4 linked regions of the Homo sapiens genome follow. The protein of the gene in region 3 purifies or fractionates together with the protein of the main gene of each other region. This does not show direct contact. Each region holds a gene or a part of one and is shown on either strand. Other genes may lie near its edges.

What was found.
Region 1: the proteins of C3orf18 (region 3) and UTP20 purify together in Homo sapiens (co-immunoprecipitation; 2 studies listed by BioGRID and IntAct, with this or other methods). This does not show direct contact.
Region 2: the proteins of C3orf18 (region 3) and CIP2A purify together in Homo sapiens (co-immunoprecipitation; 2 studies listed by BioGRID and IntAct, with this or other methods). This does not show direct contact.
Region 4: the proteins of C3orf18 (region 3) and SPAG9 purify together in Homo sapiens (co-immunoprecipitation; 2 studies listed by BioGRID and IntAct, with this or other methods). This does not show direct contact.

Annotation. Positions count from the first base shown.
Region 1 is NC_000012.12:101,381,077-101,387,119, reverse strand, and holds the end of UTP20 (small subunit processome component 20 homolog), read right to left. Parts: intron 5,981-6,043; coding exon 5,909-5,980; intron 4,080-5,908; coding exon 3,807-4,079; intron 3,578-3,806; coding exon 3,451-3,577; intron 1,538-3,450; coding exon 1,392-1,537; intron 1,153-1,391; coding exon 997-1,152; 3' UTR 502-996; downstream 1-501. UniProt on the Homo sapiens protein: Part of the small subunit (SSU) processome, first precursor of the small eukaryotic ribosomal subunit.
Region 2 is NC_000003.12:108,558,438-108,565,466, reverse strand, and holds part of CIP2A (protein CIP2A), read left to right. Parts: intron 1-12; coding exon 13-112; intron 113-2,222; coding exon 2,223-2,341; intron 2,342-4,625; coding exon 4,626-4,818; intron 4,819-5,438; coding exon 5,439-5,513; intron 5,514-5,599; coding exon 5,600-5,710; intron 5,711-7,029.
Region 3 is NC_000003.12:50,557,742-50,564,770, forward strand, and holds the end of C3orf18 (uncharacterized protein C3orf18), read right to left. Parts: intron 4,007-7,029; coding exon 3,981-4,006; intron 3,324-3,980; coding exon 3,176-3,323; intron 1,997-3,175; coding exon 1,916-1,996; 3' UTR 1,406-1,915; coding exon of another isoform or gene 923-1,405; 3' UTR 284-922; downstream 1-283.
Region 4 is NC_000017.11:51,110,840-51,117,868, reverse strand, and holds part of SPAG9 (C-Jun-amino-terminal kinase-interacting protein 4), read left to right. Parts: intron 1-7,029. UniProt on the Homo sapiens protein: The JNK-interacting protein (JIP) group of scaffold proteins selectively mediates JNK signaling by aggregating specific components of the MAPK cascade to form a functional JNK signaling module.

The sequences.
Region 1 (6,043 bases), on a different chromosome or scaffold from region 3:
CCTAAGCAGAAGTTCTTAATGAAGTAGGATTTATTACACGTTCTCTCTATAGATAGTTTTTGTGTCTTACTTTTGATATCCAATAGGGCAAGCCCCTCATCCTGTTCTACTTTTGTGAGAGTGTCATGGTTATTCTTGGCTTAATATCATCTTCCATATACATTTTAGAATTAGCTTGTTGGGTTAACGTGAAGAACTCTTGGGATTTTGCTCAGATACACATTTAACCAAAGGATCAACTTGGGAAAAAGAAGTAGCGTTTTATGATCCTGAATCTTCCTAGCCAAGAACATGGTTATAGTTCCGTTTGTGCAGATCTTTCTTACTGCCTTTTCCTAAAATTTTAGCAAGTACTATAGAGCAGTATTTGCAAATCTTTTGTTTGATTAATTGCTAACTTCTACATTTTTTCTTGCTATTTAAAAATGTATCCTTTTATTTACAAATTATATTTTAAACTCTGACTAGTGTCACATGCTTTTTAAACAGTGAAGACCCAGCAGTAGTATAGTGTTTTATTTATTTAAAAAATATGAGCATGATTACATTAAACTATATATTATACAATCTATCCAAAGTTTAACTAACTTAAATAATAAAACCTGGTTGAGCAGGGTGGCTCACACCTGTAATCCCAGCACTTTGGGAGGCCGAGGCAGGCGGATCAGTTGAGCCCAGGTGTTCGAGACCAGCCTGGCCAACATGGCGAAATCCTGTTTCTACAAAAAATACAAAATACAAAAAATTTGCCGGGCATAGTGTTGTGTGCCTAGGAGGCACAACTACTTGGGAGGCTGAGGTGAGAGGATCACTTGAACCCAGGTTGAGGCTGCAGTGAGCTGTGATGTCGTCACTGCACTCCACCTTGGGTGACAGAGTGAGACCTTGTCTCAAAAAAAAAAAAAAACGCCTCCCCCCTACCCCAGACAACCTACTGTAATTTCAGACTAGCAGAATATTCCAGAAAGTTCATGCTTGTATCAGCACAGGGAGACATTACTCCACCATTGCTAAATCTTTCAGGCTATGGCTTTTTTGTCTCTTGGCCTTATATCCTGGACGCAGGAACTCTATCTTTCTCTTCTTTGCTTCACTTTTATTTTTGTGTTTCTTCATTTTTTTCTTGGCAGCAATATCAGGATTAGTTACAAACTGGAAAAGAGAATAGAAATTTTATATTACTTTTAAAGTAAATGTTAAACCAATAAGAATCAAATACAGAAATAAATGTAAAAAACACATGCTCATTAAAGAAAATCTGAAGTCCCAGCTATAAAGTCCCCAACCGCTCAAACCCTTGATCCTCCCTAAGTGTAAGTGTGACACAAACATGCACACTTAGTAGTTATCAAGTCCAGTGAACATGCCATATTTTCAAAGAGCAAACTTACCTCCAGGGCCTTCCTCTTTTTCCGGAGTGCCCTTTTCTCATTAGCCTGTTTCTGTACAGAGGCAAAGGCTAATGAGAAGCTCTCAAGCCCAACCAGCTTTTTGAGTAATTCTATGATTTCCTGGGATAGATTCTTCAGCAAAGGATCTAATCACACACAAAGAGTAATGATCAGAGACAGGTAGGAAAGGACACATTTGAACATCAACAAAATCAACAATATGTACAACATTTATATCCAGCTACTGATCTGGCAAGAAACCCCAAATAAAACAAAACAAAATTTCAACTCTTGCAGCATTATCACTGTTACTTCAACATTAAACACTGATATAAAACTAGCCTCTATGTTCCTGGGATGGGGAAACCAGCAATGCTAGACATAGCACTCCAGCCACCACCTCACCCAGGATGCAATAAGAAATCAGAGAACATGAGGCCCACTTCCCAGCGGAAACCTGGCCCTGAAGACATTAAAGTAACTTGGGACCTTGACAGAAACGTTTTGAATTACCTCTGTTTACCTGTTGAGCTCTTGCAGATGGGGGGAAAAGTAAGAGATTCCCTCTCTAATCCATGATGGGTCACAGAGGCTTAGCTCTGCCCACAGTAACTTTTTTTTTTTTTTTTTTGGCGGGGGAGTGTCAAAAGCCTCCTTTGTGAAGTTGACAAAAAAGCCATTTCTCCCACCCTTCTCTGCCACTCACCCCTATATACAAATAACCCCCAATTTCAATTTCACAGGAGCTCAGGACATCTGTTCTAGATCACAAGCTTCTTGAAAACTTTCCTGCTGTTGAATCCCTAGTGCCTGGCAGATATTAGATGCTCATTAAATGTTGACTGGGTTGAACCAAAGCACACCTGAACCTGCTTTTGTCAGCAGCCTCAACCTTTACCATTGCTTTTTCCTTTGTAAGAGTGAGGAAACTTTCTCCCAAGGTTGTAGGACTGTAAAAGCTCTTGCTTTGACATTTGCTTCATTTGTTTTATTTTCAAACTCTGAACATTCACTTTACCTCCTTTCCTTCCTGCCCCCAGTTCCCTCTTTACCTGTTATTACCAACAATTAGAATAAGTGAGGGAAATGTATCAGGCAAGGAAAAAGAAGAAATGTTAAAATGATATTTTAAAACTATTTCATATAAAAATGATAATACTTATATTTTTGCCATATAATCTTTCTTTTGAGACAGTATCTCACTCTGTTGCCCAAGCAGGAGTGCAGTGGTGCAATCACGGCTCACTGAAGCCTCGACCTCACAGCCTCAAGAGATCCCCCCACCTCAGCCTCCTAAGTAGCTGCAATTATAGTTGTGCACCACCACACCCAGCTAATTTTTGTATCTTTTGTAGAGATGGGGTTTTGCCATGTTGCCCAGGCTGGTCTTGAACTTCTGGGCTCAAGTGATCCTCCCAACTTGGCTTCCCAAAGTGTGGGATTACAGGCGTGAGCCACTACGCCCAGCCTATAATTTTTAAGATGAGAATGTAATGACATTTTATTATTCATTATTATTCATTGTGCTATGAGGTTTAAAACTACCCTGAACCATAGTTTTCTTTGACTATTTAATCTATGTTGAGGATAAAGCATCATCTTTTATGTGAGAAACATTCTTTCTGGGACAGCAGAAAGCATACAGAAGAGGGCAATCAAATATAATACAAATATGCCTATTTGTTAATTATCTTGATATAAGTTTTCTTTTTAAAAATAAACTCTGGCTGGGTACAGTAGCTCACTTCTATAGTCTCAACACTTTGGGAGGCTGAGGTTGGAAGACTGCTTGAAGCCAGGAGTTTGAGACCAAGACCAGCCTGGCATAACATAGACCACTATTCATCTCTCTCTCTTTTTTAAATGTATGTGTGTGTGTGTGTGTGTATATATATAAATATAAACATATATAAGTATATAATATATAATTAAAATATATATATAAATAAAAATAAATCTCAGGCAGGGAGGGAGGACAGAAAGGAAGAAGGAAACATTCAGGAGAGAAGTTAGAAATCCTCATGTGCAAAAGGCAGGAGAACAGACGAGGCAGGGTTACCTTGCTCTGAATAGGTGCTGTTGAGTTCCCGAAACAAAGGAGCTATGATCATTGGGAGATACGGCTTTACCTTGTCTATCCCAAGATCCATTGCTACGGCGCCGAGGAACTTAAAGATGCATGTTCTCTGAAAGTACAGATCATTTTTTTCATTTGAAAGACTTCTCTTTAGCACTCAATCATAGACACAGCATTAATTGAGAAAACAGGGCTCAGTCTATTTTGGGACGGATGTTATTGCTGCAGTTTGGGGTTCAAAGATAAAGTTTCTAGGGACTTAGGAGGATCACTAATATCATTAAAATACTTTTTAAAGAGAAATGACTACTGTCAGTCATTCTGTGCATTCATCGCACCTTTAAGGGGTTTCTCGGCGAATAAGCAGCTTCCAGTTTTGCAATCCGGGACAGCTTCTGGATCAACCACAGCAGCGTGGCCGGCCTGCCGAGCTCTTCCTTCACCTCTTCCTTCTCTTCTCCGTCAGACTCCGCCTTCTCATCTGCACAGGCCACACCATCTTCTAAAGCTTCTTGTTCTTCCAGGTCTTCTTTTATCTTACTTTGCTTATCCTCACAATAAAGTTCCAGTAAATACAAGACTTTGGCTGCGAACAACAAATTCTTAACAACCTTTAAAAAAAAACGGGGTGGGGGAAGAAATTGGACATTGATTTTGAAATAAATAAGGCTTAGTAGAGCATAAGCTAAAATAGGTATTCTACAATTAGAAAACAAAAACAAACTAGGTATTACAACTATTTAACAACTATTAAATGATGAAGGCTCCATTTTTAGATATTCCTTTTTTTTTTTTTTTTAAAGACAGAGCCTCACTCTGTTACCCAGGCTGAGGGCAGTGGTGCAATCTCGGCTCACTGTGACATCCCCCTCCCAGGTTTAAATGATTCTCATGCCTCAGCCTCCTGAGAAGCTGGGATTACAGGCGTGCACCACCATGCCTGGCTAATTTTTATACTTTTAGTAGAGACGGGGTTTCGCCATGTTGGCCAGGCTGGTCTCAAACTCCTGACCTCAGGTGATCTGCCTGCTTCAGCTTCCCAAAGTGATGCGATTACAGGTGTGAGCCACCGTGCCTGGCCTAGATCATTCTTAAGTTCTTCCTCATAGGGCATCCAAACCCATTTCCATGTAACTTTGATCTATCTGGACTAGTTCTACCCTTTAAAGTCACACAGAATAAGGAAACAATTTCCTTCTAGGCCCTCCATTTACATTTTTTGTTTTGTTTTGTTTTGTTTTTTGGGTATTTTTTGAGACAGAGTCTCACTTTGTTACCCAGGCTGGAGTGCAGTGGTGCGATCTCGGCTCAGTGAAACCTCTGCCTCTGGGTTCAAGCAATTCTTATGCCTCAGCCACCCCAGCAACTGGGACTACAGGCTACCGTGCTCAGCTAATTTTTGTATTTTTAGTAGAGACAGGGTTTCGCCATGTTGGCCAGGCTGGTCTTGAACTCCTGGCCTCGAGAGATCTGCTCATCTCGGCCTCCTGAAGTGCTGATGTTACAGGTGAGAGTCACCACACCAGCCCCATTTTACATTTTTAACAACAGCTTTCATCTCTACCTCCATTAAATTCCTTCCGCCATTCTACATAGAAATAACTATTTCTCTCTCTTTTTTTTTTTTTTTTTTGATACAGAGTCTAGCTCTGTTGCCCAGGCTGGAGTGCAGTGTGGTGATTTTGGCTTAGTGCAACCTCTGCCTCCCCAGTTCAAGTGAGTCTCTTGCCTCAGCCTCCTGTGTAGCTGGGACTACAGGCATGCGCCACCATGCCCAGCTAATTTTTGTCTTTTTAGTAGAGATGAAGTTTCACCATATTGGCCAAGATGGTCTTGAACTCCTGGCCTCAAGTGATGCACCTGCCTCGGCCTCCCAAAGTGCTGGGATTATAGGCGTGAGTCACCGCACCCAGACCCTTATTGGGAATTTTAAATGGAGCAAAGAGTAATCCCAATACAGACCCAGTGTTGACAAGACATATGTGTATTTGAACATATATTTGAGTGTATGTCTGTATTTCATCTAATCCCCCAAGCATTAAGATAGGTTCAAAACAAAACAAAATAACAAATGTAAGCTTAGACTGTTGATAGAATAGGCCCCTTCTTTATTTCTGAGACGGAGTCTCGCTCTGTCACCTAGGATGGAGTGCAGTGGCGTGATTTCGGCTTACTGCATCCTCCGCCTCCCACGTTCAAGCAATTCTCCCTGCCTCAGCCTCCCAAGTAGCTCGGATTACAGGCACCCGCAACCATGCCCTGCTAATTTTTTTGTATTTTTAGTAGAGATGGGGTTTCGCCATGTTGGCCAGGCTCATCTCGAACTCCTGACCTCGGGGTGATCTGGCCGCCTCGGCCTCTCAAAGTGCTGGGATTACAGGCGCGAGCCACCATGCCCAGCCGGCCCCTTCTTTTAAACTGGGAGAACTACAATTCTTACCTGTTCTCCTAGAGACTGATCCAAGAATTTGGAATGCAATTGATGGCAAGAGGCGAGAGAGATACTTTTCATCTGTGAAAAGAAAATGGACATTGGTAGACAAAACACAGGACATTTCTGATTGTTTTTAAAAAG
Region 2 (7,029 bases), about 58 Mb from region 3:
TTATCTTTAAAGCAAACTTGCTGCTGATGTAATTTTGAAAACTCTTGATTTGATTAACAAACTTAAACCATTGGTTCCTGGTATGGAAGTAAGCTTCTACAAAATACTTCAGGTGAGTTTAAACTCTTCAAACATTGAAGTTTATTCATACATAAATGGTCCTAATATAAGTTTCTGTTTTAATATTCTTAATCTTTAGAAGATAATTCTCTTAGAATTGGCAATGAGAAGAAAGTTTAAAGTTGTTGTCTTAAGCAGTTATAATAGTCTCACTGCACAGTTATTTTATATACTTTCACAGGAATTGAACATAAGTGCTCATGACACTAATGTAGAGAATGTTCACAATAGTGCTGCTTCCTCAGCCTTTTCCTTTCTTGTGTTGTATTTGTATATTTCTTCATTTGTTTCTGTTGGCATTGGAGGAAGAGTGATATTTGTTTTAGGGTTTTTGTTTTTGGTTAGGGTTGATGTAGGGTATTAAGGGGATAGGGAGACAGCTGGAAGAAAAGGATTGTGATAATTAGAAGGGCTGTGCAGAAAATAGCTAACTCACAAATTTCAATGATAATAGTAGCTGAATATGATCTCTAGCTGTTATCAAAAGGCAAAGTACAACAAATTTAGTTCAAAGTTCTAACTGGCTTTTATTTATGATTCTAGAATTTGGCAGCCTCATTCTATAAAATAGAATGAATCATTCCCCTGGGCTAAGCAGAGAAGGTTGACTTTATAGACCAGAAAAGGGCTGAAGAAAGCACAAATAGGGAACTAAAAGCAGATTGGTCATTTCAAAGTTACTTTTCCTATAGAATTATAATAAAGGGGGCTTCCTTATTATACTAACTCAGGTTGACTGAAATCTCCTGGTTTTTTGGAAAACTGGCCCATTTCAAAGTGCAGTTTGATTACATGGCACTCATCCAAGTGACTCCTTTCTGGTTTGATCTGGTCTGCTAAAGCATAGTGGAGGAGACTACTCCAAAATATTAGCCTCTTAAAAACTTTGTGTAATAATATCTACAACACCTACCTTTACAACAGATGTTTAACAAAAATGAGTGAATTAAATTACTGCAGTAGCTTAACAGAGACATCTCTAGTGACTGTATAGACAGTGTAGAAGCCAAAACTGAAACCTTAGGCAGGGACCACTGGCATGTTTTGAGATTAAGGGACTGAGTTCAAATGTTGACTCTACTGGTTCTTAGTACAGGCTTGAGTAAGTTATTTCACCTCTCTCGACTTCAATTTCCTCGACTACAAACTGGAAATAATGAGGCTTACCATTGAGGGTTTTGGAGATAAAGCTCTGCTCTTATCACAGTTCTGTGACACTGGATTATACTCAAGTACCTACAAGGTACTCAATATTTTAATTATAAGGGATTTATATTTTAATATTTTCTTCACTAATATCTCAATGTATTTTTAAAGGAGTCAAACTGATGTTATGTCCATTATTTAAGATGTTTTTCATAATACAGGTTGAGCATCCCTAATTTGAAAATCTGAAATCTGAAATGCTCCAAAAAACAAAACGTTTTAAGTACCAAAATGAGGCTCAAAGGTGATACTCAAAGGAAGTGCTCACTGAAGCATTTTGGGTTTTTGGATTAGGGATGCCCAACCAGTAAGTACATGTAAATATTCTAAAATCTGAAAAAAATCAGAAATTTGAAACACTTCTGGTCCCAGACATTTTAGATATATGTTGATGACTTGGGGCTTACAATACTAATGTAAAATATTTACTGACATAAATGATTGAAGTAACTGTATTTTTTCGATCTTTAAATTTAAATGTTCTAATTTAATTTGAATTTTACTTTTTATTTTATAGCCTTAATTTGGAAGTGATTGGCCATTTTTTTCTTTTAAATGATAGCTTGGAAAAAAACATTAATTCTACACATCAGTCAGTTGTGGGTTTTTTAATCCACGAAAATATATAAGGCATAATTTTTATAGGCACATTTGAAAGCATTCAAAACCTTTGCCAGATTTTTTTAAACTGTTCATATTGATTGCATTGCAGTGTAAACAGCTATAACAAGGTATAATATATTCAAACTATATAGACTATAATATATTCAAACATTAGAAACATTTTAGAATTTGCCTAGAATTAAGATTTACATATATTTACTCACCTCCTATCTAAAAGAGCTGACATTGTTTATTCTTTCTGCTGCTTCTTTTTTGGTTTCTGATTTATTTAGGACCCACGTTTGATTACTCCTTTGGCTTTTGCTTTAACGTCAGATAATAGAGAACAAGTACAGTCTGGACTGAGAATATTATTGGAGGCTGCTCCACTGCCAGATTTTCCTGCTTTAGTGTGAGTTGTAATCATTTGCAGTGTATCTCTTGTGGTGTTGGAATACCCTGCTATGTCTCTTTAGTCCTCAGTATAGATACACAAGCAAATTAGTGAATTGAAGACTTCATTGTAATAGTAATTTTTCAAGTGATTTCTAAAAATGTTTGATTCTTATAAATGAAAAGTTCAGATGTATACTCACTCAGGGAAAAGCTAGATCCAGGCAGTTAAATGTTCTTCAGGTACTATCCCTCTATGTCTCTAGCCACTTCTTTTTAATGATAACTTCTGGACACTCTTAAGCCTACATCCTCCCAGTTTAGTTCCTCCATAGAAAGAGCTTTTCCTTCCTGACTGTTTAAGGAAAAGGTCTAAGCATTAGTCATTGACCAGGCCTGGGTTATCCATGAGAACGATGTGGACTAAAAGTTAGTTGGGATAGGAGAATAGGAGAGTTCCTAAAGAAAAAAATCTGAACTTTTATCAGAAAGTGGAAAAATGACAACCAGGCAAAATTTTCTACTATACTCGTTACTTTCAAGCAATAAGAATATTTGCAATTATGTTTGAAAAAAAATTCAGATTTCAGGGCTCTCTGAACTAAATGTCTATTAGGAGTCTGGTTTAAAATTTTTTTAAGTCATTTATATGTATGAATTTGTAAAAATGGTTTGAATAATTTGAAGTAGTTGATAAACAGGTAAGATATTCCCTGTATACCGGGATCAGCAAACTGGCCAGTGGACAGGCATCTGTTTTTGTAAATAGTTTTATTGGAATATGGCCACACCCACTCATTTTTATACTCTGTCTATGTTGCTTTCACTCTATAAAAGCAGAATTGAGTAATTGTGACAGAGACCAGATAGGTCCTTGAGTCTAAAATACTTACTATCTTGACCTATAAGAAAAAGTGCTGGTCCATGCTATATGCTATTCACTGATTTAGCGATTCCACTTTTCAGAATTAGCAATTTAGGTCATCATACCTTAAGAGTTAAAGTATGGGATGTAAGACCTAGAGAACATATAACCAAAATTCCCTTAATTTTATAATAAATATTTTTTTAACAGCAACAACAAAAATACACAGGAAGCTTTTCAAGTTACAAGTTAAAAGTGGTCTGTAAAGCTGCTCTATTTTGTGATGGCCTGCTTGCATAAACTGGTAATCTGACATGAAACAAAACCTTAAGAGCTTCAAAGGGGAATCTGCAGCCTCACTGAACATGGAAGTCTTATCCTCTGCCTCTGTGTGTGAGGCCTTCCCACCATTTTGACTGTGTCTTGGCATTCCCTGTCTTATTTGTGTTGTAAATAATTTTCTCTTTGGGCATTATCTCAGATGTCCATTTTATGCTTACTATTTAATGCCCTTATTTGACATTATCTTGGGCGTTTAATAAACTGAATGTATATTATGGATGCATTGGTAGGTAGGGTTTTTGTGTGTGTGTATTTACTTGTTTGTTTTCGAGACAGGGTCTCACTCTATCACCCAGACTGGGGTGCAGTGGTGTGATCATGACTCACTGCAGCTTCGACCTCTGGGGCTCAAGTGATATTCCCAACTCAACCCCCTGAGTAGCGGGGACCACAGGCTTGTGCCACCACAACTGCTTAATTAATTTATTTTTTTATAGAGGGGTCTCACCAGGTTGCCCAGGCTTGTCTCGAACTCTTGGACTCAAGTGATCCTCCCAAAGTGCTGCGGTTACAGGTGTGAGCCACCATGCCCAGCCTATAATAAATTAGGCTGAGTGCCTGCCATCTTGCAGTTTGCACTTTAGTTAAGAGATAAGTGAAAAAAATATTTTGTTTTGTGGTAGAAAGCGTGTTCCAGATAAAGGAACAGCTCATATGAAGGCCTGAGGTAGGAGAAAGAGAGGATTTTAAAGGGTTAGAATGGAAGTCAGGTTGGTGAAAAGTATGTACTGAGTGAGAAAGGAAAAGGACTAAGGACGTAAAGGCCAGGTGATATCACCCATGATAAGAACATTATTCTGACCAGTACCAATAACTTTGTACTTATTACAGATAATCCACACTCATAAACTAGTCTTACAATGCCTCCAAACCAGAGGTGAAGCTGTCATTATAAAAGGTTAGAAACAGAAAAGTGGGTGCTCTGGAAAATTCAGAATATTTCCCAAGACTTCATTTCATCATGGTCTCCAAGATTATTTGAAGACTTCTATTCAAAAAAAGGACCCATTCTTAAAAATTCCCTAATTCTGCACTAAGTCTGCCTTTTCTTCTATTTTCGTATAATTTTTTTTTCCTTTCTTTGACTCCCATTCAGACTTGGAGAAAGTATAGCAGCAAACAATGCCTATAGACAACAGGAAACAGAACATATACCCAGAAAAATGCCCTGGCAATCATCAAATCACAGTTTTCCAACATCAATAAAGTGTTTAACTCCTCATTTGAAAGATGGTGTTCCTGGATTGAATATTGAAGAATTAATAGAGAAACTTCAGTCTGGAATGGTGGTGAGTGAAAAAATAGCAATTATAACCTGGTACATATTAGCTATATGTCAGTCCCAATTATAACGTGTATCTAAACACTGTCAGGTACAGATTTCACTATTGAAACCTTAATATAAGAAATAACAATATTCTGGAAAATTTGGAAATAAGAAAAATCAGTCAAAATTTCAACATTTTGCCGGGTGCGGTGGCTTACGCCTGTAATCCCAGCATTTTGGGAGGCCAAGGAGGGTAGATTGCCAGAGCTGAGGAGTTCAAGACCAGCTTGGGCAATATGGCGAAACCCCGTCTCTATTAAAAATACAAAAAATTAGCTGGACGTGTTGGCTCATGCCTGTTGTCTCAGCTACTCTGAAGGCTGAGGCAGGAGAATCACTTGAACCCAGGAGGCAGAGGTTGCAGTGAGCCAAGATCATACCACTTCACTCCAACCTGGGTGACAGTGAGACCCATCTCAAAAAAAAAAAAGAAATATTTGTGACTTACCTGATGTAGCATTTGTTTTTATTTTGTTACTCATCATTAAGTTTTAATGATTTAGTTTTGAAGTAGGCATTTATTTTGTCATTGTGTCAAAATATTTTATTAAAATTTTAAGTTTTTTTACTCTTAAAATGTAGGTAAAGGATCAGATTTGTGATGTGAGAATATCTGACATAATGGATGTATATGAAATGAAACTATCCACATTAGCTGTGAGTATAAGCTTATTTTAACAATGTGTAATAAGCTTTAATAGATGTATTCCTAAAATGAAAATTAATGATATGTTTTCTTGTAGTCCAAAGAAAGCAGGCTACAAGATCTTTTGGAAACAAAAGCTCTAGCCCTTGCACAGGCTGATAGACTGATTGCTCAGCATCGCTGTCAAAGAACTCAAGCTGAAACAGAGGTGTGTAGAATATAAAGACACATCTGATTTGTAGAAAAATTAATAAGTAAAACATGCAAAATATTAGTTATGTATTTGTTACTCTAATTGAAGTAAATTCTCCTTAGCATTTGACATGCCTCCTTCCTTCTTCCTGAAATTCTGTCCTCTTTAATTTTGGTTACATCGTTACCTGATTTTTTTTTGCTACCTTGTATTATTTTCCTATGTTATTTATTTTGTACCTTTAAGTGTTGGGGACTCTGGGACTTATATTCTAAACCTTTTTCCTTTAGTTATGTGTTCTGTGGTTTCAATGGTTACCAAAATAGTAATGTTCCTAATTTTATATGTCAAGCACAGATCATTTTCCTGAGCACTATGTGCCTATGTTGCTCCATTTAAATATACAGCAAATACCACAAACTCAGCATAACCAATAATGAACTAATCACCCTTCCCTTTTTAAAATTATTCTTATGTATTCCCTCTTCTGTTTTTAGTGTTCTACAAATAAGAACCCTGGAAATCACAGTTTTTACCTCCTATAATTATTCACCAAGTCCAGTTGATTCTACCTTCTAAATATTACTCTTTTCTGCCCTATCTCTGCTTCTACCACTATTTGTTATAGGCTGGATCCTTTTCATTTTTTGTATGAATCATAGCAGAGCAATTAGTCTTCCTACCTGTAGTCTTCTACCCTCTTCTCAGATACTCTACAGCCAGTCATCTTTCCTTGGTTCTACCCCCTTCACCTAGCCGCTCCCCCAAGGATCTCTAAGGCAGTAAAATGATCCTGTCCCTCTTGTGCTGAGTATCTTTCACAGTAGCTGCTATTGCTTTCAAATATCATTAAAATTCTTTAGTTTGGCATATAAGGATTCTAACTATATAGGCCTCAATCCACATCTTTCATTTCTGCGCATTCTTTGCAGTCAGCCATGTTAGGCCACTTTGCTTTTTCTGAAACTTGACATATTCTCGTATTTCCTTGTCGTGGCACTTGACTTTCCATGTCTGGAACACCATTTCCTCTCTTCTGCCTAACTCATAATCCTTCAGATTTCAGTTAAAATATCCTCATTACCCAGAAGCCTACTCTGGTCTCCTTCCCACACGTGTTTGACGATCCTTCCTCTGTGTATCAAACCTACGCTTATCTCTTAATAACATTTTTCAAACCACGTGGAAATTCTTTTTTCCCTCACTCATGGTATCAAAGACTGCTTCTATAGCTCCAGGCCCTAGCATAGCACTTGGCACATAATAGGTGCTCAGTAAATTTGGCATTGTATTATGTACATATATAATGTATACCTTAAGAGTGAACTTACTGC
Region 3 (7,029 bases):
GCTCAAGCCCCCTTCCTCCTCCGGTCTCACAAGGTCCTGTCCAGTTGACCTTTCCACCCTAGGGGGTGACAGGCCTTGGGACCCCAATCCACAGTTGGGAAATGAAGCCCCAGGGCAACCTCGAAGTCAGGGCCAGAGGCATTTCCTCAGACGGCTCAAGAGAAACCTGGGGTGCCACCTCATAGCTGTGATCCAAGCAACTATCCCCAGGCCCCCCACAGCCCCTCACCCATCCTGCCCCTCCTAGGGTTCCACACCCCAAGCGTCACAGGCTCACACACTCTCCATGTAAACATCTTCATTACATCTTTAATGCTCTCACGTGGAGCTGCTCTGGGTTAAATTACAGCTGTATGCATCCTGAATTCCTGGCAGCCTCCAGTCGACTCAAGTGCTAACGTATTTATAGCATTTAGAGGAGGGAATAAATCCAGAACCTTCCCCATGGGGGCTTCCTAGGCCTTTCCCTCCTGACACATGGCATTTGCCCAGTGGAAGGTCTGCATACACTACCCCTGCATCCCCTCCAGCCAGCAGCGGACAGTGACGGTGGAGAGGCTGGGCACGGGACATGCCTCTGTGCATGCTTGTGTGCATATGTATGCCCAGCGTAAAAAAATGCCCTGCTCTTGTGGTCTGTCTCTGCCCAATGGCTTGCCAGGACCCCTGGTATCAGCCCTGACCCTCCAAGGCTTATGGAGAGGCCAAGTGCAGGGACCCATCTCCCCACTCTCTAAACACTGAACGGCTCTTCCCATAGATGGGATGGAGGTGGGGAATTCAAACATAGACTAAGTTTTTTAGATGTTTTTCTGAAGTGCAATCCCTCACCCACTTTCAGGCAGTCATAACTGCCCCCTCTAGCCTGCAGCCTGTGATTACTGCCCTCAGACCAACAGCCTCTCCCAACCCCAGATCCTCATTAGAGCCCAAGACAGGGAGCCGTTTTCAGAAGCAGGTGAGCCCAGTGAAACAATGCAGTGGAGAGAGGAACCGTGCTGTGCGTGCTTCCCTCTTCCCTGCAGTCCCTGAAGATTGAAGGCAGAGAAGATAGCCTACCCTGATGCTCCACTACATACCATGGGGTAGAGGTCGACTTGGAGGGTGGGGCCAGTGTGGACAATCTCATTCTGCCCGCTGTGCTGGGACAGGCACATGTCTGCCCATGGGCACACTCATGCACATGCATGAGGCCTCTCGGCAGGTCTGGGGGGGCTGCATCCTTCCACTTCCATTCCCCTACTTCCTTCCCCCTCAGCTCCCATCCTAGCTTGGCCCCAGTAACATCTGGTTGCCAAGGATGGGTGGCTGGGAGACCTCCTGGACCCTCCGTAGTATGGATGGACCCTGGGTGTGAATTGCCCTTCTCCTGGCATCCTTGCATACTGGACAGTTTCAGCTCCATCTCTGGGCTTCTCAGGGCCCATAACAGATGCTGCCCTACCCTGTCCCTATAACTTGGGTGGTTTCCTCTCCCCACCCCAGAGGAGGCTCCAGATTCCAAAAAACAGGTCTCTCCCTAACAGAGGGAAACCTCCCCTTTCCTCCCCCAATCCCTCCCACTCCGTATCTCCCTCATTTCCTCCACATTAGCGGGGCAGACCCTGATGTGAGGGATCTGGACAGGGGATGAGGAAGCCAGCAGAGGCTCTTGACCTTCTCAGCATGAGGGATGCCCTCTGTGCCAGGGCCCTCAGGTCAGGAGAAGTCAGTGGTCAGAAGTCCAGCCTGGCTAGGGCCCTCTCTTAGAGTCTAAAGTCAGCAGGTGGGTCTGGAGAACAGCTAGGACCTGGCTCAGCCCTCTTGTGTCTTGGCAGGGAAGATCTTCAGAGTAGGTCTTGACAATCAGGGAGTGGGGAGCTCTGTAGGCACCGTGATGGGTCTCTATCAGAAGTCCAGGCTTGTCCCAGGCCACTCACGCATGGATGGCATTGGCCACATCGGTAAACACCAGCCGGCTGGGTCTCTGCAGTGGGCCCTGGGAGGGCAGAGTAGTCTGCAGGAAGACAGGCAGGGGCATCAGAGACCATGGGCAAGGCCATGCACTCACTGGCCTGGTCACCTCCACCCTCACTTCCTGGTGCCTGCTTATGCTTGGCACTAGCAATGGCTTCTGCCTGGAATGCCCTCCCTGCAAGCTCAGCCTACAAATATGACTTGGCTCAGATGACTCCTCCCCAGCTTGCCCTGTCACCTTGGAGGCACTTACTGTGTTGATTTAATTATGCATGCACTGCCTTTTCCCAGTGGGGGATCAGAGGGCTGGACTCTGTATCCCCAGGCCCTAGCACAGGGGCTGGTACAAGGAGGAACATGGGAAACAAGTATCAAGTGGCCAGAAGTCCCAGTGGCTGGGTGGACCAAGGTTCTCAGTGCGAGTTCCTGAATATCCCAAGGGGGCAATATATCTTGACCCAGGTGATGCAGAGCTGGTGGCAAAACCAAAGGGTCTTCAGACTTCCAGCCTGGATTCTTTCTGAGCCCAAGAAGACGCAAAGAGGCTGGATAAGTCAGGGGCAGGCCAGGCCTGCTCATGGTGCTCTGGCCCTTGGGGATTTGGGGAAATGGTGGCAAGTGGTCAGGCAGCCCAGTGGTTACAACAGGATGGCCACACAGGTACCTATCCCTTTGGACACAGGAGGCAAGTTTGGCTGAGATCTTCACATGCCTGGGTCTGTCAGCCACTGGGAATCCACCAGCCTACTCAGAGGTACCGCTGTCCAAGAGTCTAACCCCATCCACAACCCACTCAGGACCACGGACCCTCAGGAAGCAGAGGAACCTGGGGTCCTAGCCGCCAACAGTCTCTCCCATTAGTCCTTTCCTACTTTCCTAACCAGTACGTGGGGGCACATGGGGCAAGAATTAGGATTTTCAATTGTGGAAGAGAACACTGAGGCTCAGAGATGCCAGTGGGGCTCCCAAGATCAGCAGGCTATGGGGCAGAGCCAGGCTGTATCCCAGGACTGCCTTGGCCTGGCCTTGCGCTGTGAGTTTGTGGGTGGCCCCAGAGCAATATGACCACTTTCTGAACAAATCTGGAAAAAGCCGTATACCCAATACCTGCCATCTGACCACAAGGCAGGTGCTAGAAAGCTGCATGAGAAAGGAGGGAGGGTGAGGGTGGAGGACAGAGGATGCTGCAGGCGGGGTGGGGAGCCTGGTCAGTGCCCACCTTGCCCTGCATGGCCTGCACAGAAGTAGCAGCCTGTACAGAGGCGGCGTCCCGCCCATGCTCCAGCAGCTCCTGCTCCAACTCATCTTGTTCCTCCGTGGGGTCGAAGTTGTACATGGGCATGAGCTGGTGGCGTAGCTTCTCCAGCCTGGGGATGGGGGCAAAGGCTGCTGGGGACAGGGCAGGCCCTTCCCCTCCCAGCAGCCCTCCAGGCCCTGCCTCCTGACTAGCTGAGCCACAGCACACAACCATGCTTAGGGCCTTAAGGTTTCCCTTGAAATGGGAAAAAATGACAGACATTTTTGCACCTATAGTACCAGCTCAACCCCTTAAATGGGTAGCCAGGGAGGCAGCAGTTACCCACTCCAGGGTAAGGCCATACGCCAAGTAGCTGTCATCCATGGGCCCCACAGAGATCACCTAGGCTAGGGCCTTGCTGTAATCCACAGCGTCTGAGTCTCAGGTGGGACTGGGGAGCCAGTAGCAGTCAGCTCAGAGCAGCAGGGCAAGGGTGGCTGGGCAGTTGGGTGGGAGTAATCCCAGCCTTCCCCCTCCCTGCCATCCCCAGTCCCAGGATTATACCCAGTTATCTAGAATCCTCACACCTGCCTGCCCTGTGTGTGAGATCCTTGTGCAAGGGGGGCCCTCAACCCTCCCCAAAGGAAAGTGGTCACCCCCAACCATGAATGGGCAGGACAGGCCTTGACTCCCTGATCAGCTTTTCACCCACTTCCTTCGGAGCCCAGCCCAGCACTCCCCATGGCCTCAAGTTTTGGGTGGGATTTGGGTTTGGGTGGGGAATTACCTCTTCTTCTTCCTGATGTACAAAACCTGCAAGAGAAGGAGCAGCATCAAATGGCAAGGAGAGGAGGCCCTGAGGAACCCAGCAGCCCTTCTGGATGGGGACATGCTGAGGCTGATGAACAAGAGACCCGTGGGTCCCCGTCCTAATGACACATACACCACTCCCCCTTCACCTTCATGCCTCTTTTTTTTTTTTTGAGACAGAGTCTTGCTCTGTCACCCAGGCTGGAGTGCAGTGGCACAATCTCGGCTCACTGCAACCTTCGCCTCCAAGGTTCAAGTGATTCTCCTGCCTAAGCCTCCTGAGTAGCTAGGATTACAGGTGTGCACCACCACACCCGGCTAATTTTTGTATTTTTAGTAGAGATGGGGTTTTACCATGTTGGCCAGGCTGGTCTTGAACTCCTGACCTTGTGATCCACCCGCCTCGGCCTCCCAAAGTGCTGGGATTACAGGCGTGAGCCACCACACTGGCCCCATGCCTCCTTTTGACATTGTTAGCTGCAGACAGTGCCCAGACTGAGTCTGGGGACTCAAGAGGCTCCCTCCAGCCTGGGAGCCCACACAGTTAGGCCCGGCCTGGGGACTGGTGGGCCCCACCTATTGGCTGGGCTGCCAATACTAACTGTAGCTCCAGCCACTCAGCACCTGCCTGTGGCTCCCCAGGGCTGAAGAAGAAAGGGAAAACTTCAGCACATTCCCTCCCCTCAACTCTTCCCAGGCTCAAAGCCACATGCAGGCAAAAAGTAAAGGGACCCGGTAAGGTAGCACATGCCTGTAGTCCCAGTTACTCAAGAGGCTGAGGCAGGAGGATCTCTTGAGCCCAGGAGTTCAAGTCCAGCCTGGGCAACATACTGACACCCCGTCTCTACAACATGTAAAAAGAACCAGAGACAGGCAGTGGCCAGACTCTGTAGCGTGTAGAGCAGTGGCTCTAGGCAAGGCCCTGAGCTGGTGGTCTCCGGAGTTCCTATGGGAGGCTGACGGCCCCCAGTGGACTAAGGTAGGGGTGGGGGACTGGAGCCCCTAGGCATCAGCCCAGGTCAACTCCCAAAAACTCTGATGCAAGAGGAACCTAAGAAGGCCCCTAGGTCCGGTCCCCCATTGTACAACCTTGAAGATGAGGGCCTAGGCAGCCTGAGAAAACATCTAGGACCTCTAGGCCAGAGTAAGAAACCCTGTACAATGCCCTGAGGAGAGGGAGGAAGTGGGTAAGACTTGGGGGACCACCTTGGGCGGGGAATCCAGGGACTTCTGCCATCATCCTGCTCTTCCCTAAACTGGCAGTTTCTGACTACCAGGAGCATGACTACCTCTGCCTCGGGGAAAGCACAGCCCTGTGGTTTACCCCAAATCCTCCCACATTCTTTGTGCCCCATTCACAGCTTGAATCTGGTTTGATTTCCAGCCTGGCCCAGAGCTCCTCCTGCAGGACCCCCAAAACCTGAAAAGAAACTAGGGTATCAATCCTCACTCTCCCCTCCTGTCCAGGGTTGCATGTAGGGGTGCTCCCTTGCTCTCCTGTGGGTAGGCTGTGACAGGAACTCTGGGGTCTTCTGGCCTAGCCCCTGCCACCCTGAGCAAGTGGATCCAGCCCCAGCCCCAGCCCCTGTGGTCCCCACCTCTCAGCCCTTGCCCCAAGCCCTCCTCCCTCCCCTGAGACCCTGGGATTCAGAAGGATCTACAGAAAAGGCCAGAACCTTTACGCAATTTCCATGCCTTTTCCCCTCTTCCTCAGCTAACAGCCACCCCCACACCTTCCTTTCCAAATCTTCCCTACCCCTCACTGTCCAGCAGGTGCAGCCCCCTCTCCTCCAGGAACCTCCCCCACCACTGATCCTGGTCTGCCTGTACCAAGCACTTTTCCTTCCTGGGTAAGGCAGAAAGCCTGGTGCAGATTTGCTCCTCCTTGTACCCACGGCCCTGCTTGAGGCTGGCATCGGGGAGAGGAAGCAGCACTCAGTGAGCACCTCTGGGCCTGTCTCCGGTCCCCAGGAGCTATCTTCTGCCCTCCGCTGCCTTTGTCCTACGAGCTTCCTACCTCTGATTTTGGCAAGAGGGGCATCCACCCAGGCCTTCTGAATGTTCCTCTAGAACAAAGAGTAAGAGAGCGTTCTCAAGTTCCAAGGACAAAACCTTTCACTGAAAGTAACGAGGGCAGTTTCTAGGCCCCATTCTGCCCTTAAGGGTGCCTCCATCTGCTTACCCACTGCATGGGTGCCAAGGGAAAACACTGGCATCCTGCCTTACCTCCACCCAGGAGACCTCTCAGGCCCTGGCCTCATTCTGCCTGTGCTGCACCCTGGGCCTGCTTGCTGGCTGGCAGTTGCTCCCTGGCAGCAATCTGGAGCCTGTGGGGCCCATATGGCAACCCTGGTTTAACAGCAGCTCCAACCAGGCCATGATGGGCCATCCACAGCCCTACTTGTCAGAGCAACATGCTCCTAAGCCCAAGGCCAGCCATCAGAGCCTGCGAGGAGCAGTGGGCAGAATCCTACCATTGCCAGGCATACTGGGGAACCTCAGGGGCACCCCATCCTCCCTAGTCTCAGCCTGCACGATCTCCAGTGGTCCCTCAGTGACATTCTGAGTGTCCATGTATCATCTTAGGGGGACAGCCCATATCCTTAGGGACTGACACCAGATCAAGAGGCATCACACTCACTACTGAAGGATACCTGCAGCCCTCTCCCCAGCCCCCTTCCTTCCTGATGGCTGCCACCTCCACCCCTTCTCATGACACGGAGGCCAGGCTTCCACTTTGAGGTCTCAGCTCTAATTTTGCTCCTCAGCTGTTCCTAACCACCTAGTCTGGAAAGCATTCCTGCTTTCCTGCTTGAGTCCCCAAGTCAGTCCCTGCAGGCTTCCCTTGGAACCCTTGGTTTTTATCTGTTTCCCACTCCCTGTAAGAACCACAGGGCAGGACCTTGTCTTCCCAGCCTCTATTGGGTTCCAAAGGCCTGGTCCAGGGCAGGTACTCAGTAAATAATTGCCAAGTGAATAAATGAATGTTCACTGCCAACAGCCTCCCATGCACAGATCATCTTACC
Region 4 (7,029 bases), on a different chromosome or scaffold from region 3:
AGCCACCACACCCGGCCATCAGTTTTCACATAAGATCATAAATTGTGTGTTGCTCAGTATCCAGAAATTGTCTCCCTTTGGCCAATATGTAGAGTGAATTCTGTGTTTAGTTTTCTGTGAGTGCTTTGTTTGCGCCTTTTTTTTTTTTTTTTTTTTTTTTGAGACGGAGTCTTGCTCTGTCACCCAGGCTGGAGTGCAGTGGCACAATCTTGACTCACTGCAGCCTCCGCCTCCCGGGTTCAAGCGATTCTGCCTCAGCCTCTTGAGTAGCTGGGATTACAAGCACGTGCCACCACGCCTGGCTAATTTTTTTGTATTTTTGGTAGAGACGGGGTTTCACCATTTTAGCCAGGATAGTCTCAATCTCCTGACCTCGTGATCTGCCCGCCTCAGCCTCCCAAAGTGCTGGGATTACAGGCATGAGCCACCGTGCCGGCCTGTTTGTGTCTTTAATGCGGAGACCAAGAGTCTTTTATACCAAAGTAAGTGCCTCAGGGTATTTACAGCAAAAGTGATTTGAAAGCATGGAAATTATCCATCACCAGAGAGAGTAAAGTAAATTCTGAGCACCTCTGTGGAAACTTAGGTGGGTATGTAGATAGAATGTTTTAGGAATGTGTGAGGTGCTATGATCTCTTGCTTGCAGGAATTCTCAGCAAGGCATCAAAAATTTAATCTTTATATTGATAGGACATATTTTGAATACCTTCTGACTTTTTCCTTTGCTTTTATTTGAATTTCTAGTGTGGAGCTAGTCTGCTGTTTTAGGGATTCTTTAAAAACAACCTAAAGAAGGGCTAATTTTAGATAGATTTGGACCGGTTTCAGATGCTAATCAAGAAATCTGTCATCTTATCGCCCATCACTCTCTCCTTTGGGCTGCCTGTGACACACCTCTCCATTCTTTAACCAAGACCCGTCTGATGCCTTTGCCCATGCTCTAGAATGCTCTCCTTAGAATTTTACATAGCTAGCTCCTCACTTTCTACTCTGTTTCAATTTCACTTTTTCAGCCAGAACATCCTGTTGACTCTATCCAGAATAAGCCCTGTGAACCTATTGAATAATTTATTTTAAAATCAGTGACTTTTAAATTTAAATTCTTTTTGGAGACAGAGTCTCAATCGCCTAGGCTGGGGTGTAGTGGCACAGTCACAGTTCACTGCAGCCTCAATCTCTTGGGCTCAAGTGATCCTCTTGCCTCAGCCTCCTGAGTAGCTAGGACCACAGACATGCGTTACCACACTGGGCTAATTAAATTTTTTACAGAGACAAGGTCTCACTGTGTTGCCCAGTCTGGTCTGGAACTCCTGGGCTCAAGTGATCCTCCTGCCTTGTGGATCCTGCCAAAGTGTTGGGACTTACAGGGGTGAGCCACTGTGCCCCAGCCCAGTGATTTTTTAAAATAAAAATCTGGATACAAAATGATCTGGAGAGAGAGGTTATAACTGGGTATGTTAGGGTTTTTCTGCAACTTCTGATTCTTTTAAAACAGGCATGATTTGCTGTAACTTTTAAAAAAGGGCCAGGTGTGGTGGCTCACATCTATAGTCCCAGCACTTTGGGAGGCCGAGGCAGATGGATCACTTGAGGTCAGGAGTGTGGGACCAGCCTCGCCAACATGATGAAACCCTGTCTGTACTAAAAATACAAAAATTATCTGGGTGTGGTGGTGGGTGCCTGTAATCCCAGCTACTGGGGAGGCTGATGCAGAAGAATTGCTTGAACCCGGGAGATGGAGGTTGCAGTGAGCTGGGATCGTGCCTCTGTACTCCAGCCTGGGCAGTAGAGTGAGACTACCTCTCAAAAAAGAAAAAAGAAAAAAAAAAGAAACTTCTGAAAAGTAGACATACGAGTTTAAAGAACCTTTAGGAATTTAGTTCTTAGTGATTCTGTGGGTCTTTTATGTTATCACTGTTATTCTCAAAGTGAGAGCTCATTTAGCATCATTCAGTAGAGGGAGATTACACATAAAAACGAAGAGGCATTGTCTTCCTTCCTTTTCTTTTTCTTTTCTTTTCTTTTCTTTTCTTTTTTTTTGAGATGGAGTTTCTCTTGTTGCCCAGGCTAGAGTGCAATGGTGCCATCTCGGCTCACTGCAACCTTCGCCTCCTGGGTTCAAACAGTTCTCCTGCCTCAGCCTCTCAAGTAGCTGGGATTACAGGCATGCGCCACCACGCCTGGCTAATTTTGTATTTTTAGTGGAGTTGGGGTTTCTGCATGTTGGTCAGGCTGGTCTTGAACTCCTGACCTCAGGTGATCCGCCCGCCTTGGCCTCCTAAAGTGCTGGGATTGCCACTGTGAACCACCGCGCCTGGCTCCTTCCCTCCTTTTTGAGATAGACTCATACATGCAGAGAATGGACTGAAGAGAGAATATCTTTACTGGGAATGGATTATGTGATTTTGTGTCTGCTTTTTTGTGGCCTTTTGCTTTAAAAAAAAAAAAAAAAGGATGAGTTCAAGCCTGGGCAACGTAGTGAGACCCCTCTTCCCCAAAAACCATAAAAAAAATTAGTTGGGTGTGATGGTGTGAGCCTGTAGTCCTAGCTACTCAGGAGGCTAAGGCAGGAGGATCACTTAAGCCCAGGAGTTTGAGACTGCAGTGAGTTATCATGGCCACGGCACTCCAGCCTTGACAACAGGGCAAGACCCTGTTTCTTACCAAAAAACAAAACAATAGGATGACTGAATGCAGAGGTGAGAGACACTACTGAGAATTTTCTAACTTGTTCCCATGGAATCAGCACTTAAAGCAGTAACAAAATGATTTTTGTTTAAATGGAGACTTTTGACACTTCTTGTCTTTGGAAGTGTATGAACATGGGACCCGTAAGACTCATGGGCAGGAAAATAGGTATTGACATTCATTGTTCTTGTTTTAGTGTTCTCATTCATTCATAATTTTTTTTTTTTTTGAGACAGAGTCTCACTCTGTCACCCAGGCTGGAGTGCAGTGGCACTATCCCAGCTCATTGCAACCTCTGCCTCCCAGGTTCAAGCAATTCTCCTGCCTCAGCTGCCTGAGTAGCTGGGATTACAGGTGTGCACCACTACACCCGGCTAATTTTTGTATTTTCAGTAGAGACAGGGTTTCACCATGTTGGCCAGGGTGGTGTAAAACTCCTGACCTCAAGTGATTCATCTGCCTCAACCTCCCAAAGTGCTGGGATTACAGGCGTGAGCCACCACACTTGGCCCACACTTGATATTTTATTTTTTAATTTTATTTATTTTTGAGACTGAGTTTCACGCTCTGTTGCCCAGGCTGGGGTGCAGAGGCACGATCTTGGCTTACTGCAACCTCTGCCTTCTGGATTCAAGCAGTTCTTCTGTCTCAGCCTTCTGAGTAGCTGGGATTATAGGCATGAGCCACCATGCCCAGCTACTTTTTGTATTTTTAGTAGAGATGGGGTTTCACCATGTTAGCCAGGCTGGTCTTGAACTCCTGACCTTGTTATCTGCCTACCTTGGCCTGCCAAAGTGTTGGGATTACAGGCATGAGCCACCATGCCTGGCCCATTTTTTAAAAAATTTATTTTTGAGACAGAGTCTTGTGCTGTCGCCCAGGCTGGAGTGCAGTGGTGCGATCTCAGATCACTGTAACTCCCACCTTCCAGGTTCAAGCAATTCTCCTGCCTCAGCCTCCCTAGTAGTTTGGGATTACAGGCACGCGCCAGCACGCCCGGCTAATTTTTGTAGTTTTAATAGAGAAGGGGTTTCACCATGTTGTCCAGGCTGGTCTCAAACTCTTGACCTCAGGTGATCCCCCTGCCTCGGCCTCCCAAAGTGCTGGGATTACAAGCGTGAGCCACCGCACCTGGCCTAAAAAACACATATTTTAATATTTTTATAGATCTTTTGATTGATTGATTGAGACGAGATCTCACTCTGTTGCCCAGGCCAGAGTGCAGTGGTGTAATCCCGGCTGACTGCAACCTCTGCCTCCTGGGTTCAAGCGATCCTCCCATCTCAACTTCCGGAATAGCTGGGACTACAGGATCATGCCGCCATGCCTGGCTAATTTTTGTATTTTTTGTAGAAATGGGTTTCCCATGTTGCCCAGGCTGATCTTGAATATTTGGGCTCAGACATTCCTCGCACCTCAGCCTCCCAAAGTGCTGTGATTACAGGTGTGAGCCACTGCACCCAACCTATTTTCTTTTGTTGTTGTTGTTTTTTTTTTTTTTGAGATGGGGTCTTGCTTTGCCACCCATGCTGGAGTGCAGTAGCGCGATCTTGGCTCACTGCAACCTCTGCCTCCCGGGTTCAAGCAGTTCTCCTGCCTCATCCTCCTGAGTAGCTGGGACTACAGGTGCTCACAACCACACCTCGCTAACTTTTGTATTTTTAATAGAGATGGGGTTTTACCATGTTGTCCAGGCTGGTATTGAACTCCTAACCTCAGGTGATCCACCTGCCTTGGCCTCCCAAAGTGCTGGGATTACAGGTGTGAGACACTGTGCCCGGCCAACCTATTTGCTTTTTCTTTTCTTTCTTTTTTTTTTTTTTTTTTGATATGGCATTTCACACTTGTTGCCCAGGCTGGAGCGCAATGGTGCGATCTCAGCTCACTGCAACCTCCGCCTCCCAGATACAAAGGATTCTCCTGCCTCAGCCTCCTGAGTAGCTGGGATTACAGGCATGTGCCACCATGGCCAGCTAATTTTGTATTTGTAGTAAAGATGGGGTTTCTCCATGTTGGTCAGGCTGGTCTCGAACTCCCAACCTCAGGTGATCCGCCGGCCTCGGCCTCCCAAAGTGCTGGGATTATGGGTGTGAGCCACCACGCCCGGCAGCGGCCAACATTTTTTCATATTTTTAAAAATACCATTTTTTTTTTCTGAACTGTTTGTTTTTGTGATTTTTTTTTCCTTTGGTTGGGTTTTTTTTTTTTTCTTTTTTTTAGAGATGAGGTTCAGGCTGGAGTGCAGTTGTGCAATCATGGCCCACAGCAGCCTTGACCTCCAGGGCTCAAGTAGATCCCACTTCCTCAGCCTCTGAGCAGCTGTGACTACAGGCATGCGCCACCATGCCTGGCTAATTTTTAATTTTTTTTGTAGAAACAGGGTCTCGTTATGTTATGCAAGCTGAACTCACTATGTTGCCCAGTCTGGTCTGGAACTCCTGGGCTCAAGTGGATCCTCCTGCCTTGTGGATCCTGCCAAAGTTTTTTTTTTTTTTTTTTTTTTTTTTTTGTTGAGACAGAGTCTGGCTCTGTCGCCAGTCTGGAGTGCAGTGGAGTGTCTTGGCTTGCTGCAACCTCCACCACCTGGGTTCAAGCGATTCTCTTGCTTCAGCCTCCTGAGTAGCTGGGACTACAGGCGCGCGCCATCACACCCAGCTAATTTTTGTATTTTTAGTGGAGATGGGGTTTCACCATGTTGGCCAGGATGGTCTTGATCTCGACCTCAAGTCATCTGCCTGCCCCAGCCTCCCAAAGTGCTAGGATTACAGGTGTGAGCCACTGCGCCTGGCCTTTTTTTTTTTTTTTTTTTTGTAGAGATGGGGTCACACTGTGTTGCCCAGGCTTGTCTTGAACTCCTGGCCTCAAGACATTTTCTTACCTCAGCCTCCCAAAGTGTTGGGATTGTAGGTGTGAGCCACCACACCTGGCCATGGTTAACGATTCGAATAATGTTCACACTGCCCCTAGCCAGAGTAGATAGAGATATGCCCCTGCACCTAGTCATTCAGACACTTTCTGAAATGAACAATCTATGTTTGTTTTCTGGCGGGAGTGGGATGGGAAGGGGTATGGTTGTTGCTTTATGAAATAATAATTTGTTAGTTAATTATTACTTAAGCTCCTAAGACATTTTTTTTTAAAGACAAAGACTAGCTCTGGATTAAGACATCTTTTTTTAAATTTGAGATTTCTGAATGTGAATATCTAAATGAGATACCATTATGTGTCCCTGCTGTAGTGACACTCATATTTTTATTTAGTTAAAAATCACAAAAGAACGCTACGCATGGTGGCTCATGCCTGTAATTTCAGCACTTTGGGAGGCCGAGGTGGTGGATTGCCTGAGGTCAGGAGTTCAAGACCAGCCCTGACCAACATGGTGAAACCCCGTCTCTACTAAAAATACAAAAATTAACTGGGCATGGTGGCGGACGCCTGTAATCCAAGCTACTCCGGAGGCAGAGGAAGGAAAATCACTTGTACCTGGGAGGCGGAGGTTGTAGTGAGCCAATATCTTGCCATTGAACTCCAGCCTGAGCTACAGAGTGAGACTGTGTCTTCAAAAGAAAAAACAAAACAAAAAAAAATCACAAAAGAGGACACCAAACTGGGTATAGTACCAAACTGGTTCAGAGGGTAGATTAGTAGATTGACTATTCACTGGATTGCTGAAGTGTGTGCCATAGGTCACACATCCAGTTCTGTGCTTGAGAGAGTACAGGATTCCTGCTTCTTGAAATCTTTACCTTACCTTTAACTACATGCTGCTTACTTATGTTGTACTGAACTTTGCTTCTCAGGAGAACTGATGTTAGAACCTACCCAAGTTATTTTGCTCTGCTCTGCACTCAATGAATACAGCTGTTATCTAAATAAGTTATTAGGTTGTGGTCAGAAATATCTGCATAGACCAGTTTAATAATGTATGTAATGTTATATATATTTAAAAAGCTGTTATTTGGAAATGGGTATATATAAGTTCTGTTTTTTACTTTGAAATCTTGACCAGTGATATTTGATTATTGCTTTGAACATAGCACTGTGTTTTCTTTTCTTTTTTTTTTTGAGACGGAGTCTTGCTCTGTCACCCTGGCTGGAGTGCAGTGGCGGGATCTCGGCTCACTGCAACCTCCGCCTCCTGGATTCAAGCGATTCTCCTGCCTCAGCCTCCCGTGTAGCTGGGACTACAGGCGCCCGCCACCACACCCGGCTAATTTTTTGTATTTTTAGTAGAGATGGGGTTTCACTGCGTTAGCCAGGATGGTCTCAATCTGACCTCGTGATCTGCCCGCCTCGGCCTCCCAAAGTGGTGGGATTACAGGCATGAGCCACCCACCCGGC